Homo sapiens: one gene and its partners. The protein of the gene in region 1 binds, or shares a complex with, the protein of each later gene. Each region holds a gene or a part of one and is shown on either strand. Other genes may lie near its edges. The genes, in order: LAMTOR4, LAMTOR2 and FLCN.

What was found.
Region 2: LAMTOR4 (region 1) and LAMTOR2 share a complex: the UniProt entries of both Homo sapiens proteins name them as parts of the ragulator complex.
Region 3: LAMTOR4 (region 1) and FLCN share a complex: the UniProt entries of both Homo sapiens proteins name them as parts of the lysosomal folliculin complex.

The regions. Positions count from the first base shown.
Region 1 is NC_000007.14:100,151,829-100,154,793, forward strand, and holds the end of LAMTOR4 (ragulator complex protein LAMTOR4), read left to right. Parts: intron 1-887; exon of another isoform or gene 888-929; intron 930-1,571; coding exon 1,572-1,689; intron 1,690-2,021; coding exon of another isoform or gene 2,022-2,038; coding exon 2,039-2,136; 3' UTR 2,137-2,375; downstream 2,376-2,965. UniProt on the Homo sapiens protein: As part of the Ragulator complex it is involved in amino acid sensing and activation of mTORC1, a signaling complex promoting cell growth in response to growth factors, energy levels, and amino acids.
Region 2 is NC_000001.11:156,050,267-156,057,781, forward strand, and holds the start of LAMTOR2 (ragulator complex protein LAMTOR2), read left to right. Parts: upstream 1-4,515; 5' UTR 4,516-4,623; coding exon 4,624-4,691; intron 4,692-4,996; coding exon 4,997-5,159; intron 5,160-7,515. Other genes in the region: UBQLN4 (ubiquilin-4), read right to left, coding at 25-287, 844-1,061, 1,440-1,591, 3,328-3,435. UniProt on the Homo sapiens protein: As part of the Ragulator complex it is involved in amino acid sensing and activation of mTORC1, a signaling complex promoting cell growth in response to growth factors, energy levels, and amino acids.
Region 3 is NC_000017.11:17,226,990-17,234,168, reverse strand, and holds part of FLCN (folliculin), read left to right. Parts: intron 1-1,267; 5' UTR 1,268-1,381; intron 1,382-2,286; 5' UTR 2,287-2,375; intron 2,376-4,338; exon of another isoform or gene 4,339-6,007; 5' UTR 6,008-6,031; coding exon 6,032-6,280; intron 6,281-7,179. UniProt on the Homo sapiens protein: Multi-functional protein, involved in both the cellular response to amino acid availability and in the regulation of glycolysis.

The DNA of each region.
Region 1 (2,965 bases):
TAGAACTACAGGCAAGCACCACCACGCCCAGCCATTAAAAAAAAAAAAAAAATGTGTGGAGACAGGGGCCTTGCTATGTTGCCCAGGCTGGTCTCAAACTCCTGGCCTCCAGCATTCCTCCTGCCTTGGCCTCCCAGAGTGCTGAGATTACAGGCATGAGCTCCTGTGCTTGGCTGGAAGAAGTTATTTTAAAGGAGGAATCAGTATATCTTGCTAATGACTAGAAATAGGTAATAGAGGAAATATTTCTGTAGCCAGAACTCTAAAGCCTGGAAGAGTGATGATGCCTTAAGAAACATGTCCCTGCGTGGTGGCTCACGCCTTTAATCCCAGCACTTTGGGAGGCTGAGGTGGGTGGATCACTTGAGGTTGGGAGTTCGAGAGCACCCTAGCCAACATGGTGAAACCTCATCTCTACAAAAAATTAGCCTGGCATGGAAGCACATGCATGTAATCCCAGCTTCTTGGGAGGTTGAGGCAGGAGAATTGCTTGAACCCAGGAGGCAGAGGTTGCAGTGAGCCAAGATTGCACCACTGTACTCCAGCCTGGGTGATAGAGTGAGACTCTGTCTCAAAAAACAAACAAACAAACAGGAAATCAAAAAAAGAAGTGGATTGGGAAGGAGGTGGATAAGGATAAGGTGAAATTTGATGGCCCAACTTTAGACATTGAGTTTGATATAAAATAGCAGTTAATATATATTGCTAGTTCAGCAAAAGGAACTAAATCTAGTGGAGGCCCATATCAAGGAAGAGGGAAGAGGAAGTTGAGACAGTCACCAGAAAAGAGGAAGCCCAAGCCACTGTCCCATCACTTACTCTAGGGGTCAACAGAGGGAGGTATTCAAGGACAAAGGGAATGTTTATGTTTGAGATTCTGCAAACAGGGCAGCAAGTGTGAAGACAGAAAAAGATGGAGCCATTAACAGGTAAGTGGTGGGCAGGCATTCATTTTGGAGAATGTGGCTTTATCAAATAGGCAGGGACATGGGAGAAATCCAGTTTTATGGGGTTAGAAAAGCATGGTCAATAAAGAGATGGATGGCCAGGCACGGTGGCTCACGTCTGTAATCCCAGCATTTTGGGAGGCTGAGGCGGGCAGATCATTTGAGGTCAAGAGTTTGAGACCAGCTGATTAATATGGTAAAACCCCGTCTCTACTAAAAATATAAAAAATTAGCTAGATGTGGTGGTGCTGGTACGTGCCTGTAATCTCAGCTATTTGGGAGGCTGAGGCAGGAGAATCACTTGAACCCGAGAGGCCGAGATTGCACCACTGCACTACAGCCTGGGTGACAGAACGAGATTCCGTCTCAAAAAAGAAAAAAAAAAAAAAGATGGATAAGTTACTGCTCATCCGGGGAAGGCCAGTATTATGGGAAACAGGATGGCATCCGGAGGGTGACAACATTATAGGGGGAGATTTCAGGTTGTTTTTTTCCAAAGCTGAGGGTACTGGCAAGCCAAGGGGGAGAGGGTCTAAGTGTGAGAACCAAGGGGACTGTGCCTGGAATTCCTTCCTGAGCCTGTGCCGTAATGCCCGCCCCTCTCCCTCCTCCGTCTGCATGCAGTCATCTGGGGACCTGGAGAATGATGAGCAGGCAGCCAGTGCCATCTCTGAGCTGGTCAGCACAGCCTGCGGTTTCCGGCTGCACCGCGGCATGAATGTGCCCTTCAAGCGCCTGTCTGGTGAGCCCCTGCCCCTGCCCTTGGTGGTGGTACTGGGAGCGGGGGGCTACTTCCAGGGGCTTCTCGGCTTCTCTTCTTCCAGCCTCCTACCATCTCCTGGGGTCTCTGGTCTGGCCACTTTCCTCCCTTTGGGACTCCCTGGTATCAGAATTGTGAATGAGAAGGCAAGAGAAAGGAGATCTAGCAGAGGCCACTCATCTTCAAATCTCTGAGCCTGGAACTATAGAACTTCTTTGGCTTTGATCCCAGCCAATGTGCGTGTGGCCCCGCCCCATGGAGTCTGTTGCACCCACTAACTCTGTGCTCCCTTCCCTCTCCTGGGGCGGGGGAAGGTGTGTCTCTCCTCCAGTGGTCTTTGGAGAACACACACTGCTGGTGACGGTGTCAGGACAGAGGGTGTTTGTGGTGAAGAGGCAGAACCGAGGTCGGGAGCCCATTGATGTCTGAGCCTGCCGGAGGGCGAGGGTCGGAGAAGCGGATTGGGTCCTGGGCCTCTGTGATGAGGCAGGCACACCTGTCGGTCTTGGCTTGCTGCTAGAACTAGGGCCTTCTGCTCGCCCACCTCCCACCCCTACCTGGACGGGCCCAGGCTTGGGGACTCTGAGCTGTGTTAAGGAGAACAAGGGCAAGGAGACCTCCCTTTGTGCTCCCTCACTCCCTAATAAACATGAGTCTGATGTTCTCCAGCCCAGGGACATGTGTGTTTAGTGTTGGAATGGTTACACCCCATGTCTGTCTTCCACCTTCTGGGGAGAAAGTCATGCACCTTAGCCCAAGTTGGGTGCGGCAGGGCCACCTCTGTGTGCTATAAAACTGGGAAGCAGAAAAAGCTGGAGGGGAAGGGAGTCACCCTGAGCCCTGGCGACCTCTGCTCTTCCCATCAGTACACAAACTAGTCATCCTTCTCCCTCCTGAACAGGCATTTAATAGTCTTATTTCAGTTGGAAGCAATAGTTGGAAAATAAGTTACAGGAACAGACCAAAAAAAAAAAAATTAAAGTGCTTCAGGCTGCAAACGTAAACATAAGGGGCAGGAGGCTACCTGGCCCTGTCCCCAACCCCTGAGACAGGAAGGTCACTGTCAGGGGCCCTTAGCCATCACCACCCTCTAATCTCAGCCCTGCGGGAGGGAGGGAGGGAATGTCAGAGGTGGGAAAGAACTCAACGGGAATGAGGAAGAGACTTTGTAAACTCAGAACCAGGGTAAAGGGCCGGGGACAAGGGAGCTCTGGGAACCCTTGCCCTGGCCTAGGGGTGGGGCCAGCCCCCCCCACAG
Region 2 (7,515 bases), on another chromosome or scaffold:
GCTCTCCAGCCCTCTCATACTCACCTGCCTCATGAGTTCAGGGTTATTGAGCATGTGGCTGATCTCAGGGTTCCGCTCCATCAACTGCTGCATCTGGGGGTTGGCCATAATCATGTGACGCATCAGATCAGGGTTAGACATCATATCCTGGACCAGGGGGTTCTCCATGATCTGTGACAGCATCTCAGGATTGGACATCAGCTGCCGCTGCATCTGCTGCTGCAGCTCCATGAAGTTGGCAGAGCCCAGGCCTAGGCTGCCCAGCCCCAGGATGCCCCCAAAGCCAGCTGTGGGAAGGGGGCAGGGTCACAGTCTGCCACAAGAACAGTGTCCTCACTTAGCCAGAGCCACTGAATTCAGATCTCCAGGACACGCCCCAAATGCTTCTCACATGTCCCTCTTCCTGTCATTCCCACAGCCCGGCCCTGATCCACTGCTGGCAAAAAAATGTGAGCCTACTAGACTGAGGCTGTGCCAAACATAGAACTGAGCAGAGAGAAGGCAACCAGCAATGGTCTGTTGAATGAGTGGCCCATGTGGCTACTGCTGGATCCAACTTTTCCCCAGACTCACAGGGTCTTCCATTCCCTTTACCTAGGGTTCCCCACATCCCCAACCCCATTTCTCCCCTCACTCCTAACCCTTAGCCATGGTCCCCACCTCTGAGAACTCCTCAGACTAGTTTCTTCCCCAGCTTGACTCAAGTATCAATGTCTGGAACTCTGTCATGGGGTCCCCTATCCCCATCAGACCAGGAGCAGGAACTCCTGTTTCTCCCTCCTCTTGGCTTTCCCCAACTCCCCAACCCCAAACAAGATTGTGCTCTCCTCTCTGAGGGCTTACAGAGTATGGACGCAGTAGCACTGGGGGATCCCTCCCCAGCCCCCGGAGAGGGCCCCCCACCACTGCTCCTCCGGCTTCCACTGCCAGCATCTGAAGAGGCACTGCCAGAGGTGGAGGGCTGGGCAGGGGTGGCGGGTGAAGCAGGCGTGGTGGAGGGTGCTGAGGCAGGGTCAGGTGTGGAGGGGGAAGAAGCAGTGGCAGCAGCTGGATCTTGAGCCCTGAGGACAGAGAAAGGAGAATCCTGTTGGAGTGAGCACTAGAAGAGGGAAGGTACCGTGACAATCTCTGTGCTTGCTATGGGACAACTATTTTAACCCAAGACCCCTCCTGAGCAGTCCTGAGGCTGGAGTGGGGTGATGGCGGGAGGGCAGTCAGTAAACCAGCAGAGGGAGAAAGGAGCTAGTATTATCTGTCTTCAGGGCATTCTGGGAATGGTAAATCAGGTTCCCTTCCCCTAGAGATGAGATCATATTCATCCAGGAGCTACCTGCCTGGGCCTCAGCTTAGGCCCTCTGGGTACAGTTAAGCAATGAGTGAGAAAGTATCAGATGGGGAGGCCCAATCAGAAGCTGGATCTGCTCTGCTCCTGAACTTACTTCTGAGGGGTCTTGATGACCAGATGGACAGTGAGCCCGTCCTTGATTCCGTGCTGGTTCAGTGTGTCCCCATCCTTGAGGATCTTGCCTGCGAAGATCAGGACCAGCTGATCCTGCTGAGCCTTAAACCTCCGGGAGATTTCCTCTTTGAACTGTGATCAAGAGGCAGAGGTCACTGTGGAGGCTGCCTGGACTCCCCCTACCAGGGACCCTGACTCTTTTTCAACACCTTCTGCACTCTCTTGCTCTCATCTCTAGTCATGGGAAGTCCTTTCTGTAGTCTCGACGCCATTCCTCCAGCTGCAATAAGCATCTCCTTTCTTAACAAAGGAGATGAACCAGTGAGAGGCTCTTCTCTCAGCTCCATCCCAGAGTCTCCCACCCTAGAAAGCCCCTGCTGCTATCTGCCTCCCAGCTTCAGTCCCTCCACCTAGTTCTCTGTAAGGCAGAGCAGCCTCCCATCCCAACTCCTTCAACAGCTTTGGACCTTCAGCCTTCTGAGACCCAATTTTCTCTCCTCTCTATTCCCAGTATTCTCTTAACAACTACAACAAATAGATGCCAGTTATTGAGCACTACCTATTCACCAGTTAAAGATATAGTATATTGTTATTTTCATTTTATTATTATTTTTATCTTGAGATGGAGTCTCGCTCTGTAGCCCAGGCTGGAGTGCAGAGGTGCGATCTTGGCTCACTGTAACCTCCATCTTCCGGGTTCAAGTGATTCTCCTGCTTCAGCCTCCCGAGTGTCTGGGACTACAGGCACACACCACCATGCCTGGCTAATTGTATTTTTAGTAGAGACGGGGTTTCACCATGTTGGCCAGGCTGGTCTTGAACTCGTGACCTCAGGTGATCCACCAGACTCAGACTCCCAAAGTGCTGGGATTACAGGTGTGAGCCACCACGCCCAGCCGTATCTCCATTTTAAAGATGAGAAAACTGAGGATCAGCGAGGTAAGGTAACTTGCCCCAGGCAGACCAGAACTCAGGTCTTGACACCAAAGTCCAGGCTCTTAACTAAACACACTGCCTCTCAATGAGAGCCGTTTTCAAATTCAGCTTTGTAGGGAACATACAGTATTTAAATTCTGAAATTTAGTAATTCTATGTGGTTAGGGAGGGAGCAAGGATGGAGTTAGACTTCCCAAATTCTACCAGCCCCTCCAAAACACAACACAAAACAAAACACAACACACACTTTAAGTAAAAACAGTGCACTTGTTAAGCAGAGGCTGCTTCCAGATCCCTCTCTTCCAACCAGATGGCCTATCTTAAGCCCCGCCTATGTGAAATTATGGAGCGGCCACAGGGGGTGGCGAACACAGGCAACAGTCCGTCATTCAACAAGATTTTATTGAGCACCTACTGCACACCGTGTAAATCTCAGAAGAGCTGAGAACCAAATGTAACCACGTCGATTTGAAAGAGTGGGAAGGATCTGGGCACAGGGAAATCCTCCCCCGACAGCCCCGTCGCTCAGAGAACACTGGGCGTTCTCTGAGGCACAGAGTAGGCGCCGGCGCTCTCCGCCTGCCCCCGGCCCGTTCTCTCAGTTAGCACCTAGCCCGGGCCCCCACTCCGGCACACTCCCCTCAAACCCAGGGTCCTTCCCCCTTCCCGGTGCAAGGTGTCCCCTCCTCACTCTCCACCACGCCCCCAGGCCACAAGGCAAAACCCGCCCCTCAACACGCGCCACGCTCCCCCAGATCTCCCCTCGCAGGGCGCCCCCTACCCGCCTCTCCTTGCCTTCAGCTCCTCGGAGTCCCAGCCGGCCCCCGCCCTCCTCTCCGGGGCCCTCCGGGACGCCGGACCGTCAGAGAGGCCCCCCATCTCTTCGCAGACCCCTCCTCCGCGCTCCCCCCGCCCCCCGCCTGCTGTACTACCTCCTTGACCGAGGCTCGATCGCAGATCACAATTTCCTCCTTGTCCTTGGGGGTCTTGACGGTGACCCGAATGGGGGGCCTCGTCTCGGCCCCGCTCGGCTCCGCCATGCCGCCGCCGCCACCCGGCCGCCCGCCAGCCCGCCCGGCTCCTCCTCCTCCCCGCCCGCCCGGCCGGCCCGGCTCGGCTTCTGCGCCTCCAACACTCCCCTCTCTCCACCTCTCCCCTCCCCTCCCCTCCCCTCCTCTCTCCTCCCCTCCCCTCCCCGAGGCTTCACCGCCCCCTCCGGACCAGCCGCAGCCACAGCGCCCCGGGCGGACCGGGGGGGCCACTGCAGCGGGGTCCGCCCAGGGCCAAGCCCCAGGTCCGGAGCCCGGCCAGGGTCTCGCCAGGCGGGGGCCCCTGGGGGGCCTCTGGGAGGGGGAAGGGGCGTGCCCTTCATTGCGGGGGCGAGGGCGGACTGCCCCGGGAGACCGCGACCCAACGCTGCCCGCCCGAGCCGTGCCGCGGTCCCCTCCAGCCCAAAGCCTCCCCGCCCCCTCCGCGGCTAACTCGGCTCCGGGACAAAGGACTTTCTGTGTCGCCGCTTTATCTCCGTTCCCTGTGATAACTTGGTCTTTCTTGGAAGCCCAAGTCCCTTCCAGGCCAGGGGACTTTCCCGACTTGGAGGTTGGGTTTTCCCACCAAGCACGTCCACCTAGGTTCTCAGCTCTGGGACTGACCCTATAGCCCCGAGGGTCGCGGCCTGAATGGTCTATTAAGAACGGTTCCAGGGAGCTGGGTTTTGGCTGCGTGGCCTTTCAGAGCCTTGGTTTCCTCAAGATAATAATAATAGTACCTCTCGCCTCATCGCACAGAATTGTGCATAACGGAGAAAACTGTTTTGAAAGTAACCAAAGGCGTGCCTGACAAATATGAGGATGTAGTATAATTATTGAATCGTGGACTGCCAAGCGGACACGTTGATTCCTTTCTCCCCGAAGGGGTTAAATGTCCTTCCAGCGCTGCTGCTGTCCTTTCACTCCCGTTCTTTTCCGCCCCCCAACAACCGCGTGGTCGGCTTGGAAAGGCGAACTATAATTCCCAGGGTGCCTCGCGAGGCCACAAAGAACTACGATTCCCAGAGCCCCCCGCGGTGGGGCGGGGTTGAGTCGGAACCACAATAGCCAGGCGAAGAAACTACAACTCCCAGGGCGTCCCGGAGCAGGCCAACGGGACTACGGGAAGCAGCGGGCAGCGGCCCGCGGGAGGCACCTCGGAGATCTGGGTGCAAAAGCCCAGGGTTAGGAACCGTAGGCATGCTGCGCCCCAAGGCTTTGACCCAGGTGCTAAGCCAAGCCAACACTGGAGGCGTCCAGAGCACCCTGTGAGTGCAGACCACGGACCCGAGCGGCGAGCGCTGCAGTGGGGCGGCGCGCGGCTCCCTGAGGGAGGGGTGGGGAAGGATCACCAGGAAGGGAGGAAGCGGCAGAGGGGGCAGCGGCTGGGGATACCGGCCGGGAGGTCCCCTGTCGAAAAGGGAAGCCGGTGTGCTGGGTGCTTAGGGCATGTTCCGGGACACGCTCAGGCCAGAGCCTTGCTGGATGTGCCCTTGGTGGGACTTGGGATGGAAACCCAGACGTTTTACTCCCCGCTCTGAGCACATCGCTATCCCTCCCCGCCCCTCACCAGGCTGCTGAATAACGAGGGATCACTGCTGGCCTACTCTGGTTACGGGGACACTGACGCCCGGGTCACCGCTGCCATAGCCAGTAACATCTGGGCCGCCTACGACCGGAACGGGAACCAAGCGTTTAATGAAGACAATCTCAAATTCATCCTCATGGACTGCATGGTATGGAGAGGGGAGCCAGACTTCCCCTGTCCCCCAAAGGGGATCCCAAGGGGGCGACCTGGACCCCATCCTGGATGGTTGGAGGGGCAGGGACAGGATCTCCGGAAGATTACTAAGAGTTGGTCTGCAGCAGCATTTGTAATAGGCAGGACCCTATTCATCAAGTGGTGGTGAGGAAGGATCCCTGGACCTGAGAGGTCTGACTTGGGTTCTGGTCTCAGCCATCCACTTATCAGTTGTGGAACCTTGGGTAAGTCGCTTAACCTCTCTCAGCTTCCTTACCTCATGTTTAAGGAGAAGACAATAATTTCCCTCTCCCCGCTCCCCTCATGGGTTGTTGTGAAGGTCAGATGAAATAATGGGTATAAACAGTAGAATGACGTGCAAACACAAAGTGTTGTCATCCCAGTTTCACCGACTCACAGAACCATGGCAGTCTCCAGACCCTAGTCCAACCCCTTAAGCTTTCAAAGAAAGGAAAATGAAGTCCAGAAAGGGGAAGTCACCATTAGATTGTGAACTTCTTAGTATCTGTTCGGTCGACAAGTATTTAGGTCCTTGCAGTATTCTCAGGACTAGGGAAAAAATAGCAAACAGAAAGACAAAACCCCCAGCCCTAATAAATCTTACACAGTGATACAATCACGGCTCACTGCAGCCTCGACCTCCCTGGGCTCAGGTGATCCTCCTGCCCCAGCCTCCTGAGTAGCCGGGACTACAGACATGCACCACCACACCTCGCTAATTTTTGCATTTTTCCAGAGACTGGGTTTTGCCATGTTGCCCAGGCTGGTCTCAAACTCCTGGCTCAAGCGATCTACCCACGTTGGCCTCCCAAAGTGCTGGGATTACAGGCGTGAGTCACTGTGCCTGGCCACATTTTTTAAAATAAGTAAAATATATAGTATATATTAGGTATTGAAAATGCAATGGAGAGAAAGCAGGGAAGTGAAAGAGTATGAGTTTGTTGGGTGTATGTGTCAGGGACAGTCTCACTGAAAAGGTGACATTTGATCAATGATCTGAAGAAAGGTGGGGGACAAGCCATGTGGTTATCTGAGGGAAGAATATTTTGGACAGAACAGCAAGTACCAAGGCCCTGAGGCAGAATTATGCCTGCTCAAGGATCAACAGGGTTGGTTGGTATGGCTGGAGTTACGTGAGATGGAGGAGGGTAGTAGGAGATGAGGTCAGAGAGGCAGGGAGTGCAGTGCTTGGTTCCTGGCATACAATAAATACCTAGTAAAAGTTTGCTGAACTTACTTTTGTTTTTTTCAAATTGGCCAGAAGGTGAACTCTCCAGGAAGGATCTTCATTGTAACTCAACTGCCTACTCTCCCCTACCCCCTGCACAACCAATGCCATTTTTAGTTCAACATATGACTCCTACTGGATGCCTAGAGCTGGTGCTATAGGGCAATAGCTTTCAAACGTTTTGACCACAACCCAGCCATAAGAAATACATTTTAAGGGGCTGGGCATGGTGGCTCATGCCTGTAATCCCAGCACTTTGGGAGGCCGAGGCGGGCGGATCACAAAGTCAGGTGTTCAAGACCAGCCTGGCCAACATGGTGAAACCCCATCTCTACTAAAAATACAAAAATTAGCTGGGCATGGTGGTGCGTGCCTGTAATCCCAGCCACTCAGGAGGCTGAGGCAGGAGAATCACTTGAACCCAGGAGGCAGTGGTTGCAGTGAGCCGAGATCACGCCACTGCACTCCAGCCTGGGCAACAGAGCAAGACTCCATCTCAAAAAAAAAAAAAAAAAAAGAAATACATTTTAAGGCTGAGCACAGTGCCTCACTCCTGTAATCCCAACACTTTGGGAGGCTGAGGCTGGAGGATTATCTGAGGCCAGGAGTTCAAGACCAGCCTTGGTGACCTAATAAGACCCCATCTCTACAAAAAAAATTTTAATAAATAAATAAATAGGAAAAAATTTTTTAAGAAAGACATTTTAAGTCAGAGCTCAACACACACATAGACCCACTAAAACAAAAGTCATGAAACAATACTTTTCCTACTACATGTAATATACTTCATTTTTTCTTTTTTGGTTTTTAATGCTGATCAACCTTCTTAATTTATCTCCTAACTGTGGGGTCAAATCTGCAATTTGAAAAACATTACCATGGGAAAAGAGGAGAAATACCAGTTGGGTTACCACTCCCATGCCCCTCTCAGTGTCTGTGGGGTGAGCTCACAGTAATAACATCACTCATTTGGACAACTGTTGGCAGATATGAAATTTCATGGTATTAGCACCCTCACCAACTGGGATGAGGTAGGGATTACAGAAAGAAAAACTGAATTTCTGAGAGACTAAGTTTCCCAGAGTAACATGGTTAGTAGGTG
Region 3 (7,179 bases), on another chromosome or scaffold:
GGAAGTGGCTTGTCAGCGTTGCCTCTGGTTTCCCTCTCCTGCTTGAGAAGGAAACTGCCAGGCCTATGGCCTGAAAAGTAAGTTGGTGTGATGTAGATGCTGCCAGAGCACCCCCTTATAACCAAGAGTAAGAAAGATGGGGACTTGGCTGGATGCAGTGGCTCATGCCTGTAATCCTAGCACTTAGGGAGGCTGAGGTAGGTGGATCACCTGAGGTCGGGAGTTCGAGACCAGCCTGGCCAACATGGTGAAACTCTGTCTCTACTAAAATACAAAAATTAGCCAGGTGTGGTGGCAGACACCTGTAATCCCAGCTACTCAGGAGGCTGAGGCAGGAGAATCACTTAAACCTGGGAGGCAGAGGTTGCAGTGAGCTGAGATCACGCCATTGCACTCCAGCCTGGGTGACAAGAGTGAAACTTGGTCTCAAAAAAAAAAAAAAAAAAAAAAAAGGAAAGATGGGAACTTGCAGCCTTGACCTCCCAGGCTGAAGTGACCTCCCAACTTAGTCCCCCAAGTAACTTGGACTAGAGGCATGCCCGGCTAATTTTTTTTTTTTTTTTTTTTTTTGAGATGGAGTCTTGCTGTGTCGCCCAGGCTGGAGTGCAGTGCCGTGATCTTGGCTCACTGCAAGCTCTGCGTCTCAGGTTCACGCCATTCTCCTGCCTCAGCCTCCCGAGTAGCTGGGACTATAGGCGCCTGTCACCATGCCTGGCTGATTTTTTTTGTATTTTTAGTAGAGATGGGGTTTCACCATGTTAGCCAGGATGGTCTCGATCTCCTGACCTCCTGATCTGCCCACCTCGGCCTCCCAAAGTGCCGGGGTTACAGGCGTGAGCCACCGCGCCCGGCCTGGCTAATTTTTTTTAAAAATTTTTTGTAGAGACAGGGTCTCACTGTGTTACCCAGGCTGGTCTCAAACTCATGGGCTGAAGCAATCCTCCTGCCTTGGCCTCCCGAAGTGTTGGGATTACAAGCATGAGCCACTGAGCTGGCCTCAAGACCCTATCTCTAAAAAAATAAATACAGAGATCCTTGATCAAATACTGGTTTAGAGTGCCTCAGAGGTGCAAGAGTTCAGCTAAAATGTCAGCTCCTGCTGAGAAGGTCAGAGGCCTGCTAAGCCATTCAGAACCCTGGGGAGTGTCTACATCCTCATCAGACACGTTCTTATTTGAGACTGGCTGTAAGCTGCTCCCATTATTTTTCATGCTACGAAGGCCTCTAATCTTAGAAATAGCTCTAATTTTTTTTTTCTCTTACCTAGAAAACGCCAGGTCTTCAAGGGTGTCTGCCACCACCATGCCTGACCCATTTGGCAGCAGCCTCGTGTGTGGTGGTCTGGTGTGGACGGTGGAAGCGTGATTCTGCTGAGTGTCAGGTTAGTGTGGGTGCTCTGCAGGTGGGCTGAGACTTGGCCCAGGCTTGCTGTCCTGTGCATGTCTTGCTAGAAGGAACCTTATTTCTCTTCCCCTGATGCCTCTCAGAGAAAGGCGTGGCCTTCCTTTTCGCAGTTTAATGCCTTTACCTTTCCTTTGGGTCCTGCTACCCCTTACTCCATCAGTGGTCGCCCCATCTCCTGTTGAGCAGTAGATTTTTAAGCCACTCATCATAGTGAACCCTGTGGGCCCTTTATTGAAACTGTCTGTTTGGTTCCTGTGCCACTAGACTCTGGCTCCGGCCTTCCCCACAGCTGTGGCTCCTGAACCTCTGCCGCCCCTAGATTCCGCCCCTTTCTTGGCAACAGCTGTCATCTTTCCAAGGGCGACTTCTCAGTCCTCTCATTTATCTAACACGTGAATGTGGCGCTTCCTGTGTGTCAGGAAGGCACTTTGGAGGCGCAGTTCTGCGATGAGGAGCGCTACGACTCAAAGCAGGGCAGGGGAGGGTGTCGGGGTGGAGGGGAGCTCTTCTGGTGGGCTGGCAAGGGGTACTCTGAGCAGGGGAGCAAGTGGAGGCCGAGTGGTGAGGAGTGAGCCAGGTGACGGTGTGTGGAGCATTCCTGACCTTTGTCCCCAGCCCTGCCCTCTCCTGTCCTGCAGCCTGCATCTTTGCTGAGTTCTCAGGGCCTTCCAGCTAGAAGTTCTGCCATCTGTTAAATGCGTATGTTTCCTCTCCCGCTGCCTGTCTGCCTCCCTCTCGGAGTGCACCTACAGAGCACTAGCCCTCCATTCCCTGCCAGCCACACCCAGGGTCTCCCTCTCTGACTCCCACACCTGCCTCACTGCCAGCCCAGCTAAGGTTCTCTTCAAATGTCTGTTTTCTGTCTGCCTCTGCCATTCCCAGTGTGACCACTCGTGCTCAGCCGTATCTCAGCAGGAGGACAGGTGCCGGAGCAGCTCGTGCAGCTAAGCAGCCAACTGCAGAAACGTCAGGTGGGTGGTGCATTCGCAGGCATGCTGAAGAAGCAGTTCCAGGCATGGGCCGCCGGCAGAGAGGCTGGCTGCAGCACCCCCCACCACCATGCACATCGTCCTTTGCTTCTTCCTAGAGTTAGCGGCTTTGGCAGGCCATGCCTTGTTTGTGTTCACAGCCTGCCTGTCAGGAGCGAAGACAGAACGTCTGACTTTTGGATCCGTAACAGGGGTGGGGGCTCCCCAGAAGAGAAGAGGCTTTGGGTCCTGGCCAGTGTCCACTACTCAGTCAAACATTCAGAAACTTACATGATTCTTCATCGTCCCAAGCAAGTCTGACTTGGGCCCTTTATTGAAACTCTGTTTCCTCTCCCGCTGCCTGTCTGCCTCCCTCTCGGAGTGCACCTACTGAGCACCAGCCCTCCATTCCCTGCCAGCCACACCCAGAAAGCAATGGGGCTTTCTGGGAAGGCAGAAATATTCTGTGACCTGGGCTATTCAGAGGGGTGGCGTGAGTCGTGTGTGCCTAGCAAACACTCAGGACATGGCCGGTGAGACAGAAGGGCTGAGCTTTTGTCCTAGCTAATATATTAATTAATTAATTCATTATTTATTTTGAGACGGAGTCTCTCTGTCGCCCAGGCTGGACTGCAGTTGCGCAGTCTTGGCTCACTGCAACCTTCGCCTCCTAGGTTCAAGCAATTCTCCCGCCTCAGCCTCTTGAGTAGCTGGGACTACAGGTGTGCGCCACCATGCCTGGCTAATTTTTTTTGTACTTGTAGTAGAAATGGGGTTTTGCCATGTTGGCCAGGCTGGTCTTGAACTCCTGACCTCAAGTGATCTGCCCACCTCGGCCTCCCAAAGTGCTGGGATTACAGGCATGAACAACCGCACTCAGCCTATTTATTTAATTTTTTCGAGACGAAGTCTCACTCACTCTGTCACCCAGGCTGGAATGTAGTAGTACGATCTCAGCTCACTGCAACCTCCACCTCCCAGGTTCGAGCGATTCTCCTGCCTAGGCCTCCCAAGTAGTTGGGACTACAAGCGTGCGCCACCACTCCAGGCTACTTTTTTTTTTTTTTTTTTGAGATGGAGTCTCGCCCTGTCATAAAGGCTGGAGTGCAGTGACCTAGTCTTGGCTCACTGCAACCTCCGCCTCCCAGGTTCAAGTGATTCTCCTCCCTCAGCCTCCCAAGTAGCTGGGTTTATAGGTGACCGCCAACACGCCCAGCTAAGGTTTTTGTTTTATTTTGTTTTGTTTTTGTTGTTTTTGGTTTTTTTTGAGACTGAGTCTCACTTTGTTGCCCAGGCTCGAGTGCCGTGGTGCGATCTCGGCTCACTGCAACCTTGCCTCCCAGGTTCAAGTGATTCTCGTGCCTCAGCCTCCTGAGTAGCTGGGACTACCAGCGCACACCACCACACCTGGCTAATCTTTGTATTCTTAGTAGAGGCAGGGTTTCACTGCGTCGGCCAGGCTGGTCTCAAACTCCTGACCTCAAGTGATCCACCCGCCTCAGCCTCCCAAAGTGTTGGGATTACAGGCTCATGGGATTACAGGCATGAGCCACTGTGCCGGCCTCTCCTAGCTAATTTAAATTTTAAATTTAAGTTGTCACACATAGCTGTGGCCACCGTATGGACAATGTGGGTCTGGCTGCATGTGTCAGGCTGTGTCACATGTCAGGCTGTTGGCTGTGGCTGTCCCCACTGTGCACCTTTGCTTTTGCGGTCTCGTTTCCAGAACTTCTCTGCCAGTGAGAACCCCATGACACACCCCCATTTTAAAGCCTTCTCTGGCTTTCCTGCATTCGTTAGGAAGGCATACTGCCTCATGCTGCCGCGGCCATCCCTCTGCAATGAGTGCTTGGTGTCCCTCAGACTTTGTGCCTGCAGCTGCCCCTGGCCTTCACATGGTTCCGCCGGCATCGCAGCTGTACTGTGGCCAAGCTTGGGGCTTTCCTTGACTCCATGTCCCCACCAGGTGTCCCATTGCTGGCTCTGCCACGGAAACTCTCCAAAGGGCTCTCTCTACCCACTCCTGTGAGCTTTTTCTCCACCGGAAACTGTGTTAAGGTCACCTTTGACTTCATCATTGTTCTGCAGGTTACCACTCCCCCTTTTAAAAAGATTGTGGTGAAATAATACATGACCTAAAATGCGCCATTTGAACCACTGTTCGGCGTGCAGTGCCGTGGCATGAAGTATGTTCACAGTGCTGTGCGGCCATCGCCACCTTCCGTCTCCAGAACTGAGCCCCGCTCTTCCCTCCCAGTCCCCGGCAGCTGCCATTCTGCTCTCTGTCTCTATGGCTTTGAGGACTCTAGGTACCTCCTATTTAAGTGGAATCCTACAGTGTTTATCCGTTTGTGACCAGTGTAGATCATTTCGTGTAATGTCCTTCAGTTTCAGCCGTGCCGTAGCTTGTGGCAGGGTTTCCTTCCTTTTTAAGGCCATGTGACATTCCAGTCCCACCTTGCTAAAGCAGTTTACCTGGTCACTGGGGTGACTCTGGAGCTCCCCTCTGGCCTCACTGCCTGTGCTTGGTCATGTTGGCTAGCTGTCCTCCCTTCTCCACCTCTGAGTCTACAAGGGCTGCACTCCACGGAGGTCCCATGCGTCAGCCCCGACCGCAGCGCTTGGCTCTGCTGCTGTGTCCCGTCCCCGTGAAGGCTCAGCAGGCACTCACTGGGCCTTCTCCCCTGCTCACTGCTCCGCACTCTGCACCCCACCCGCACTGTGCGTCTTCACCCTGCCTGGCCTGGGCCACTGTCCCTTCCTGCTCAGATCAGTCAGCAGGGTGCCTCAGCTTGTTCCCCACCTCCACCCTGGCCCCCTGCCATCTTTTCTGCACATGGGCATGAGTGAACCTATTCAAGTGAAATTCACATTTTCTCATGTCTCATCAGAACCCCCAAAGCCTCCCCAGTCTCTGATAACACATCCAGGGTCTTTCGGTGGCCTGGAGGAGCTATAAGATCTGCTTCCTACAGCCTCCACCCTGTCTGCTGCTGCTCTTTGGACACCGGACCTTACACACCCCTCAGACAGTACAGCACCCACCCTGCCCTTCAACTCTTGCTTGGCCCCGTAAGCCAGTCCTTCCAGGCTCCTGCCTCCTCTGGTCATTCCCTGCGTGGGCCTCTCGCAGGAAGCAGTTTTCCTGTGTCCCCCGCCGACCCCCTGCAGGAGGTAAGCTGCATGAGGGCAGTATCATGTTGCCTAGCACCTTGGCCCACATGGAGCAGGTGCCAAGCAGATATGTATTGGGTGGAGGACCCTCTCCCTGTGGCCTTTTATCTATTTGTTCTCACAGGGTTTGCCAGGTTTGGCTGCAGTTCATGTCACTTGAGGACATTCCTTTCCAGCGCCGTTGGCTTTGTGGCTGTGGCTCTGTCACAGCTCCAGCTGTGCTATCATTGGTCCACATTGTCCCCTCCCCTATTTGCTGTGACTCCCATGGGAAGATCCTATCTCTGTTCCTCTCGCACTGGGGCAAAGCAGTGCTGGCAGGGGGCTGGGGAACTGGCGGGTGGCCTCTCCTGGGCAGGAAGTCCATGGCACCCAGGTGCTCCCTGTGCTCCAGAGGGGCTGGGGAGGTTTCATGGAGTCAATAGGCATTGGCAAGCTGACATGTCCCCTGTCCCACGCAGGCCTGTTGCAGTCTCCAAGGCACCATGAATGCCATCGTGGCTCTCTGCCACTTCTGCGAGCTCCACGGCCCCCGCACTCTCTTCTGCACGGAGGTGCTGCACGCCCCACTTCCTCAAGGGGATGGGAATGAGGACAGTCCTGGCCAGGGTGAGCAGGCGGAAGAAGAGGAAGGTGGCATTCAGATGAACAGTCGGATGCGTGCGCACAGCCCCGCAGAGGGGGCCAGCGTCGAGTCCAGCAGCCCGGGGCCCAAAAAGTCGGACATGTGCGAGGCAAGTGTCTTTGGGGTCTTGGTTTTGTGATCCCTGCAGTAGGTGTGGGATGGACAGGAGGACCTGAGAGCAGTGGACGGGGCCTCCCGGGGTGACACAGACTGCTTCTCAGGGGCCCTTCAGTTCTTTCCGCTCATCCTGACTGTAGCTTTTGTTTTGTTTTGTTTTGTTTTTTTTGAGACAGAGTTTTGCTCTTATTGCCCAGGCTGGAGTGCCATGGTGTGATCATGGCTCACTGCAACCTCTGCCTCCCGGGTTCAAGCAATTCTCCTGCCTCAGCCTCCCGAATAACGAATTACACTTGCCTGCCACCACGCCTGGCTAATTTTGTATTTTTAGTAGAGATGGGGTTTCACCATGTTGGGCAGGCTGGTCTTGAACTCGTGACCTCAGGTGATCCACCTGCCTCGGCCTCCCAAAGTGCTGAGATTACAGGCGTGAGCCACCACACCCAGCCTATGTTAACTTCTTTAACCCACTCTGCCTCCCTGCCGTGGCCTTCATGTTTGTATTCACACACTCCAGCCTGTCCTGGAGGCGGGTCCCCAAAGTCCCGTGCTCCCAGTGGAGTTTCCTGCTCCCAGGACCCCCAGTGTTCTCGGTGGGTCACTCCATCAGCTCTTGAACTCTCGGGAATTAGTGTGAGTTTTCCCCAGTGGGCCACTTGTTTTTGTGGAGGACCTGGGTCAGGGCCCAAAATCAGGGGTGGGTGTTGGACCTGCCACTGCAGTGCAAACGGGAACCCAAGCTTGTTCTTTTGGTTCTGCTGCAGAAGCAGAGGACGTGTAAGAGCTGCATCCATTGCTGGAATTGCCTGTAAGGAATGGGGGATGGGGAGCACCTCAGACCTGGGAAGGAGGGCACCGCCAGGCTGCTGGGGCATCCTTGAGCTGGTTTTG